Linked DNA regions of Homo sapiens. The protein of the gene in region 3 interacts with the protein of the main gene of each other region in a pairwise test. Each region holds a gene or a part of one and is shown on either strand. Other genes may lie near its edges. The genes, in order: TNMD, MAL2 and MYG1.

Region 1 (2,886 bases), on a different chromosome or scaffold from region 3:
TTTGAACAGTCAGTGATTTGGGTCCCAGCAGAAAAGCCTATTGAAAACCGAGATTTTCTTAAAAATTCCAAAATTCTGGAGATTTGTGATAACGTGACCATGTATTGGATCAATCCCACTCTAATATCAGGTATGACATTCTTATCCTCATCCTCCTCCTATTTTCTAAGACAGTAACAGGTTAATGTTCCCAGCATTTAGAGGCTACATTTCTAGGAAAACAAATGATCGGTTTATATCTTCTTGGATGAGTCTATATATGCTGACTGCCAGTGAGGAGGGAATTTTTCACAGCCAAGTTATAAATCAGATAAATTAATGTTGACAGGCTTTTAAATATCCCAGCAAAGGTAACACCACCCTAATGTGACTAGTGATAGCAAAAAACTAATCTGTCTCTCTTTGCACATCTATATTCATTGCAGTCGGTATGCCAGACTATTGCTCAAACCACTGTGGGTCCAACCCAAGAATAGAGGAGAGAAGGGCAAAAACAATGCTCTGCTATCAAGAAGGATTCCCTATGTCAAATGGTGGCATTTTCCTTAGAAGATAGGACAATCACTGCAATACAAATTTCTTTGTTGCTGTTTTAGGAATTACTATAAAAATAGTTGAGGGCTTGATGTCCAGAGTAGAAGAGTCCAGCCCTCAACTTCCAGTCAGCCCATAGAGAAGGTAAAGGCCCCTGGATGTCTTAGTCTGTTTAGCTAACATGGAATTTGGCCTCCCTCATTCTGCACAGCATAGATTACTCTATTACCCAAGAGAGGTTATTCTCACCAATGTAAGCATCTGTGGGTACTCTTTAGAGATATTAAAAAGGTGACTAAATGCAGTGTGGTATCCTGGACTGGATGCTGGAACAGAAAAAAACATTAGTAGAAATACTAATGAAATCTGAATAAAGTCTGTAGTTTAGTTAATAACATTGTACCAATTCTAACTTCTGATTTTTGATCATTGTACCATGGTTATGTGAGGTAACATTAGGGGAAACCGGGTGAAGAATATGTGAACTCTGTACTATTTCTGCAACTCTTCCATAAATCTAAGATTATTTCTAAACAGAAAGTTTAAAAAAAATTTAAGACAAGAAACATAAGGGAAGTGGGAGGACAGAGGATGTCAAATCAATTCAGGCAACCAAGAAATATTTATTGAGCATCTACATGGGTAAAATCATCATTGTAGGAGATACAGAAGTCCCTTGTCCTCAGTTTTTAATTTAGTGTGCTATTAAGTCAAAGCAGTAAATGTTTGATGCCAAAGAAGCAAAGAAGTTTGTGTATGTAGAAATGATCAGGCTTGTTTTGGAAACTACTCTAAAATATCAGCTGAAGGAGCTTGGAAAAGTGGTCCATGCCTAAATGATGCCAGTTAGAAGACACAATGAAAATCTCTATCCCCAGCTGCTATTCTCCCAAGCACTTCTTTCAGGAACATTTGCAAAGCAGTTGCATCACAACTTTGCATTTATTATCTTAGTTTCTGAGTTACAAGACTTTGAGGAGGAGGGAGAAGATCTTCACTTTCCTGCCAACGAAAAAAAAGGGATTGAACAAAATGAACAGTGGGTGGTCCCTCAAGTGAAAGTAGAGAAGACCCGTCACGCCAGACAAGCAAGTGAGGAAGAACTTCCAATAAATGACTATGTGAGTTATGTTTATGTAAACTCTTGATAGAGGAGGAAAAAAGAGCCCTCACAAAACTTACTACCCCTCAGATCACAATCATTGGAAGGAGAACGATCATGGCTTTAACAAAAAAAAAAAAATGTTTAAGAAACTTGGAATCTCCAGGAGGCTCATTCAAAATCAATCTCGATCTCTGTAGATATATCTCCATGATCAGGCTAAGGAGCTTAATTTCTCACAAGCCCCCAACTCATACAGTCTTCTAGTTCTCCCCTGCTTGGTGAGAACTCTTGCTAGTGAACCTTCCTCTCCCACCCCCAACACTGGCTTCTTCTTCTTTCAGACTGAAAATGGAATAGAATTTGATCCCATGCTGGATGAGAGAGGTTATTGTTGTATTTACTGCCGTCGAGGCAACCGCTATTGCCGCCGCGTCTGTGAACCTTTACTAGGCTACTACCCATATCCATACTGCTACCAAGGAGGACGAGTCATCTGTCGTGTCATCATGCCTTGTAACTGGTGGGTGGCCCGCATGCTGGGGAGGGTCTAATAGGAGGTTTGAGCTCAAATGCTTAAACTGCTGGCAACATATAATAAATGCATGCTATTCAATGAATTTCTGCCTATGAGGCATCTGGCCCCTGGTAGCCAGCTCTCCAGAATTACTTGTAGGTAATTCCTCTCTTCATGTTCTAATAAACTTCTACATTATCACCAACAGCCTGATTGCTGCTGAACACACTGGGTAAGTGTTTGCTGAGAATATTCACAGCAACTGAAATGGAGCAGACCCGTCAAACATAGATGACTATGCTGAGGCTCAGAAAACAATGCCCCAAAATGAAAGCCTCAGAAGCAAAAGTTTTTCTCTGACCTTCTCCTACCTGCCAGTCTCTCAGTCCCATTCTCCCCCGAGGCTAGCCATAAAAGCTAGAATCCCTCTTCCTCAAGGCGTGTCATATAAATCAAAACCCCTTTTTTCCAAAGCCAGCCTTAAACCTAAAAATATCACTCTGATTTTTCCTCTGCTTTTCTGTGTAAAAGCTGGCCATAAGGAAATTATCTGACCTACCTTGTTTGACTGTAGGTCATAAGACTCCCTTTCCAGAGAGGATCCAACACAACAGGTTTGGAAGTAGAAAAGGGCAAAGCATAATGATACCTAAATATCATATTTTACTCTGCTGTATTAAGACAGTGGAAATAAGGAGCTGATGATAAAATGTCTCCATAACTGATGCATTAA
Region 2 (3,661 bases), on a different chromosome or scaffold from region 3:
ACCTGCATTAGAGATGCAAGGCAGCAAGGTGTTTATTTATTTAGTTAGTTAGGAAAACAGAACAAATTCTGGGATGTAATGAGAAATGACATACACATAAGAGGCTTATGACCAAAATACGTTAATACTCATTGCAAAAGAAGTTCTACTTTTTAGCTTTACATTTGAAGGCTTTAAAAATATGTCTGAGAGTGCTATAGAGAGTTATACTTTCTTCCTCCCCATGTGACCTAAACCTCCAATTCAGCTGCTTAAATAGCTGACACCGACCCTAAAATGGAAAGCTCATATTACAGAGGAGAAATATGTTCTGGTTCTTTTTATTCTTCTTTATAATAATTCCTCTCGATTTTGAAAATTCCCTTTTCATGTTTGCAGGTAACTAGTTATCACTTTTAGTTTAAAGCTGTTCCTGCGTGCCAATGCCCTGATATTGGCCAGACCCGTATAAATCACTGCCTCTTTCCTTTCTTTTTACCTTCCTCCTTCTCATAGCTATTATACAGAAGTTGAGATTGTTATATATGTTGTCTATAAAAGGATATGGTACTCTTATATAAAATAGAACACTTAGGAAATTCAAGTTAAAGTGCAGAAACCTGGAGAAGAATTATGGCAGTTTACATGTTGGGCAAGATTTAAGAGGGCATCTACTCCCAAGCTGCCCTTCTCCACTCCAGCCAATGTCTCCAGACTATTTTCACATACTGCTCAGTTTGTACTATAGAACAAACAAGTAGCATTTGTTAAGTACTGCATGTGCATGATACTGGGTATGCCAACCTGGTTCCTGTCCTTTGTCATTACAGGGTCATTTCTATTCAGCCATATCACTGCAAATACACCATGTCCACAGCTCCTACCACCACGTACAACATTTCTATCAGGCTCTACAAAACAAATCTCTTCTCTATGACTTTTTCCTTTGGAGCTCAAGGTGAATCTTTTCAGCTACTTGGTTTAAAGTTTTCCATATTTCAGTTCTTCGTATTTTTTTTTAAAGGACTGCCAGTCGGAGCAAATGATTGTTGATAATAATCTCTGGCAGGGGCATTGGTTTATTTTCCCTTATGAAACTTTAAAGGTTATTTATTTATTCATTTATTATTTTGGGGATGTAGTTTCGCTCTTATTTCCCAGGCTGGAGGGTGATGGTGCGATCTTGGCTCACTGCAACTCTGCCTCCCAGGTTCAAGCAATTCTCCTGCCACGGCCTCCCAAGTAGCTGGGATTACAGTCATGTGCCACCACACCTGGCTAATTTTGTATTTTTAGTAGAGATGGGGGTTTCACCATGTTGGTCAGGCTGGTCTTGAACTCCTGACCTCAGGTGATCCACCTGCTTCAGCCTCCCAAAGTGCTAGGATTACAGGCATGAGCCACTGCACCCGGCCTAAAGATTCTTTTAATGTGGATGAAGATTTTTAATCCAGAGGCAAAGGAAAAAAAATACCTACAGTTTTAAAACCCATTTAGGGGACAACTATGTCCATGGACAGCTCCCTCTTGCACACTGCAAATAAGCAATGTCCCTTCACAGTCAACATTTTCCAGGCAATAAACTCTATACATCAGAACATATACATGTTACTAGTCCAAAGTCAAAGCTCTCAGTTGAAAATAACCTGAAGTCCCTTTCATAGATTTATCTGCATGACTGAACCTGCCTCCCCTAAAGTCCCTCCCTCACAATCATCCTTTCATTAACATTTGTTTTTCTGGCATAATTCCTCTGAGTTACATCTTATATTTAAGTTTAGTCTAGGTATCACTTTGGGGCAAGTCAAACTTTACATACTTAATTGACTTCCCAAACCTCAAACCTCTCTCTCTCCTTCTCCATCCTTCTTTCATTGGTTCTATTTCAGGTTCTTTTCATCCCTTATCTAAACTATTGCAATAAGCCCCCTAACTGCTCTTCCTGCCTTCAGTCCCTTTGTTTTACAACCAAACTTCATCACTCAAAGGTTTCTAAGACACAAGCTGGATCAAGTTTCTCTCTGTCCTTCACAGCTTTCCATCAGACAATAAATCCAATGCCTTGGCCTAGCATTTCTCAGCAAACCAGAACCTGAGTCCTACCTGCTGTTTTTCCTTTTTCTGCCACGGCCCACCAAAATCTCACAACTGACAGAACGTTCTTGCCATTGTCCTTCTTGTCTCTGTGTTTGTACGTGTCCTTGTTTCTACCTGGAATTCTCTTTCCCATTTTCTAATGAACCATGGCTCATTATTGAAGGCTAACCTCAAATGTCCCCACCTCATTAAAGCTGCCTGTTCTGACCTCTCCAGAAGTCAGATGTACTCTATCCTGCTGTTCCACAATACTTTTTATAAACCTATATTAGCACTTCATACACAGCATGGTAATTCTTTCTTGACTTTATATTCCACCAAACAGTAATTTCTTTTAAGGGCAGGAGCCATGTTAGTTACTCTATTTTCAGGGCATAAAAGAAGGCTTGATGCATAGTATGTTCTTAATTATAAGCTGAGTAAATGAAAATTACTATGGCATCCAAAACACTGCAGTTAGAAGCATGTGAATAAGAATCCTAGAGTATCTCCCACAAAGATAAATGTGAATGAATAACTTGGGGAATATAAGTAGTTTCTTAAACACTAAAACTGCAAAATAAAACACAATGAATTCAATGATTATCTGTATTCTTTTTCGTGATTAATACTATTAAAAATTCAATTTTTCTTGTGCATTTTACAAGATAAGCTCATTGAGAGCAGGGATCCTAAATATCTTGTTCAGCCCAATAGTGCAGATGATCCCATGTTATTTTTTAAAGTAGATAGACCCACCTGGAAAATGTTTTAGCTGCAGTTCACTTCCCATACTTAATTCTTTCTTCCCTGAATGGTAGTTACTTTTGTGACTATACTCTCAACTAGGTTATAGGTCTTTCTGGTGAGGAAGGGTTTAAACATCTTTGTTCCCAGAGGAGTGCCTTGCACATAGTAGGTATTCAGTAAATACCCGATGAGTGATTTTTATAAAATATTCACTCAAAAAACTGTGAGATTTTGAAAGTGCGAATTTTGAAGGTGATGGCTTCCATTCTAAGCTAAAAGGCTTAGCTTTGCAATATTAACTTAGTATTAAACTCTGTGGCAAGCATACATTGGTAAGTATTGCTAAGCCCAAAACCAAAGAGCTGACAATTAGGTATCCAGGAGTGGAACACACCTTATCTCCCTATCTCAAAAAAAAAAAAAAAAAAATCACTATGCACGTGAGATTGTAATATTCTCCACTTAAGAAGCCAGTGCTATAATGCTTTTCCTGGTGCTCGTAGGCTGGCACTATTTATATATTTTGTAATATCTCCCAACAAATGGCTTATATCTGACAGGCTGTGAATAGAATACGTTAAGGGGAATTGGGAATGAATACTTTGAGCCAAGTTAAATGGTTAGTGTGAGAACCAAACTCCAAGAGCATGGTGTCAATAGCGTAGTCAACTGTTGATAGCCCAGTCCTCCTTTGTCAGGTACAATTTTCACATGTTAAGTTTCAGAAGGCAATGGGACAGAAATGAAGAACTCTTAAAGACAAACGAATTTGAACAGAAGGTCAAAATTAAAATGGAGTTTGAGGATATCCAGAAACACCGGCAGAGGTTAAAATAATGGGTCCCCAGAATGGAGA
Region 3 (2,653 bases):
AAGTGCTGGGATTACAGGCGTGAGCCACCGCGCCCGGCCTAAACCCATGTTTTAACTGAGCATCAGGTTGGGATCCAAACCAAGAAGAGCTGGGCATAGGAGTTACTTTCTCAGTGCTCTGAGAGTAGCACTTTTCTACATACCACAGGTGTACTGTTATGGAGGCCTATTTTGTAGGGTAATTTTGCATAAAGTTTCTGCCCCGAGACTCTTGAGGCATTATCCTACCATTTATTCAGACCCAGGAGACAACTGCTGATGTCATGAGGCACATTATGGGCTTCCCTGGAACCCTAACCCAGCAACCAGCTTTTGGTGTCTAGTCTCACACTCATTTTCTCCCACTTGACTTGTGTTCTCAACCAGAGCCGCTCCTGCACCTCATTAACCGTGTCACTGAATACCTACTCACCCCACCTGGAGATTTACCAGCCTTCAGCCACAGGGACCCACTCCCACAGAGAGCCTCTAGCACCTAGAGACCTTCCTTGTTCAAAAGTTAGCAGTCCCCTCCCTACACGTGTTGGCTTTGGTTTGGGCTTTGTGCAGCAGAATGAGCATGGATTAGAAATCAGGTGATCTGAATTCCAGTCACAGCACAACGAGCTGTCTGAGCTTCAGCGAGCTGCTGAACTTGCCAATTCTCCCTTTTCTCATCCAGTTAATGTTGAGAGATCCTCACAGGGCTGAAAGAGTGTGTATGAACATACTTTGAATCATGTAAGATTTCACATAAGTAGCAGGTAGCCTCAAGAAGGTTTCCCCTGCTGCTGCCTTAGATGTATGAGAACTTTGTGGAGGAGGTGGATGCTGTGGACAATGGGATCTCCCAGTGGGCAGAGGGGGAGCCTCGATATGCACTGACCACTACCCTGAGTGCACGAGTTGCTCGACTTAATCCTACCTGGAACCACCCCGACCAAGACACTGAGGTAAGGTGGCCTGGGAGGAGACCCGGAGACCTGTAAGAACCTTGGGTGGGGGGAAAATGGGAGCATTTGCTCCTCCTAAGCCCTAGCAAATTCCAAGTTTGGGCCAGCATCATGGTTCTAATTCTCATCATTCCCAGGCAGGGTTCAAGCGTGCAATGGATCTGGTTCAAGAGGAGTTTCTGCAGAGATTAGATTTCTACCAACACAGCTGGCTGCCAGCCCGGGCCTTGGTGGAAGAGGCCCTTGCCCAGCGATTCCAGGTATAGGCCTTGGAGGAGGCATTATGGCTTGAGGATTACTGACTGCCAATCAACAGGAACTCCTGCTTCTTCTACCCTAAACCCTGGAGTGCAGTGGCAGACAACCTCAACCTCTTAGGCTCAAGCAGTCCTCCCACCTCAGCCTCCTGAGTAGCTGGGACTACAGGCACACACCACCTCACCCAGCTAATTTTTGTATTTTTTGTAGAGACAGGGTCTTACTTTGTTGCCTAGGCTAGTCTCAAATTCCTGGGCTCAACTGATCCTCCCACCTCAGCCTCCCAAAATGTTGTGACTACAAACATGATCACCATGCCCAGCCTACCTTAAACCTTCTAGCTATGCTCTCCCTCTTTCAGGTGGACCCAAGTGGAGAGATTGTGGAACTGGCGAAAGGTGCATGTCCCTGGAAGGAGCATCTCTACCACCTGGAATCTGGGCTGTCCCCTCCAGTGGCCATCTTCTTTGTTATCTACACTGACCAGGCTGGACAGTGGCGAATACAGTGTGTGCCCAAGGAGCCCCACTCATTCCAAAGCCGGTGAGGCCCTAGGGAACCACTCTGCAGACCTTCAGGCTTGTCTCAGCCTTGTTAAGAGAAGGCTGCCAACTCTGACCCCTGCTGTACTCCCTCTTTCTGCCCAGGCTGCCCCTGCCAGAGCCATGGCGGGGTCTTCGGGACGAGGCCCTGGACCAGGTCAGTGGGATCCCTGGCTGCATCTTCGTCCATGCAAGCGGCTTCACTGGCGGTCACCACACCCGAGAGGGTGCCTTGAGCATGGCCCGTGCCACCTTGGCCCAGCGCTCATACCTCCCACAAATCTCCTAGTCTAATAAAACCTTCCATCTCATACTGACCCAGTCCTTGACTTATTCTTGCCCTACACCATTCCAGAAACTTGTGAAAAGTGAAACAACTATTTATGTGTAAGACCCTGTGCTAGATATATTTTCTTCACAGTAACTTCTCAGCCTTGCTTCCCAAATCATTTGAAACCATAGTTTCTAGGATTAAATAACGTGACCAAATTCACAAGTGGCTAAAAAGTGACAGAACAGGGCCTTAACCCAAAGTCCATGCTTTTTTCCCCTACTGTACCCCACTGCAACTCCCTGGAAAAGACAGACTGGTAACTGAGTGGAAAACAAAAGGAAAACTTATTTATTCTTAGAGGTGGGAATGTGGGGAGTGGGGCAGAACAGGTGGTGGCCCTGGGAGAGGGTCCCAAGGGGCAGAGGTTGGGGATGTCTCAGTAAAGAGGGGCAGGTCATGAATAGAGCCTCCACCCCCAGCAGGGGGTTCCTGGGCCCGCCCAAGCACTGGGCTAAAACGTGGAAACTGGGCATTGACAAAGTACAGCGGGATGTGGGCAATTCGGCCTGTGGACCAGCCCTGCAGAGAAGGGAAAGAAAAGGATCAGAGTCTGGGCCCAAAGAAGGGCCACCTGGCAGAGCCATACA

What was found.
Region 1: the proteins of MYG1 (region 3) and TNMD interact in binary tests that used the Homo sapiens proteins (3 or more experiments, as listed by UniProt).
Region 2: the proteins of MYG1 (region 3) and MAL2 interact in binary tests that used the Homo sapiens proteins (3 or more experiments, as listed by UniProt).

Annotation. Positions count from the first base shown.
Region 1 is NC_000023.11:100,597,528-100,600,413, forward strand, and holds the end of TNMD (tenomodulin), read left to right. Parts: coding exon 1-130; intron 131-1,488; coding exon 1,489-1,655; intron 1,656-1,980; coding exon 1,981-2,190; 3' UTR 2,191-2,358; downstream 2,359-2,886. UniProt on the Homo sapiens protein: May be an angiogenesis inhibitor.
Region 2 is NC_000008.11:119,211,270-119,214,930, reverse strand, and holds part of MAL2 (protein MAL2), read right to left. Parts: intron 309-3,661; exon of another isoform or gene 1-308. UniProt on the Homo sapiens protein: Member of the machinery of polarized transport. Required for the indirect transcytotic route at the step of the egress of the transcytosing cargo from perinuclear endosomes in order for it to travel to the apical surface via a raft-dependent pathway.
Region 3 is NC_000012.12:53,305,129-53,307,781, forward strand, and holds the end of MYG1 (MYG1 exonuclease precursor), read left to right. Parts: intron 1-779; coding exon 780-932; intron 933-1,069; coding exon 1,070-1,192; intron 1,193-1,551; coding exon 1,552-1,733; intron 1,734-1,837; coding exon 1,838-2,021; 3' UTR 2,022-2,049; downstream 2,050-2,653. Other genes in the region: AAAS (aladin), read right to left, coding at 2,361-2,585. UniProt on the Homo sapiens protein: 3'-5' RNA exonuclease which cleaves in situ on specific transcripts in both nucleus and mitochondrion. Involved in regulating spatially segregated organellar RNA processing, acts as a coordinator of nucleo-mitochondrial crosstalk.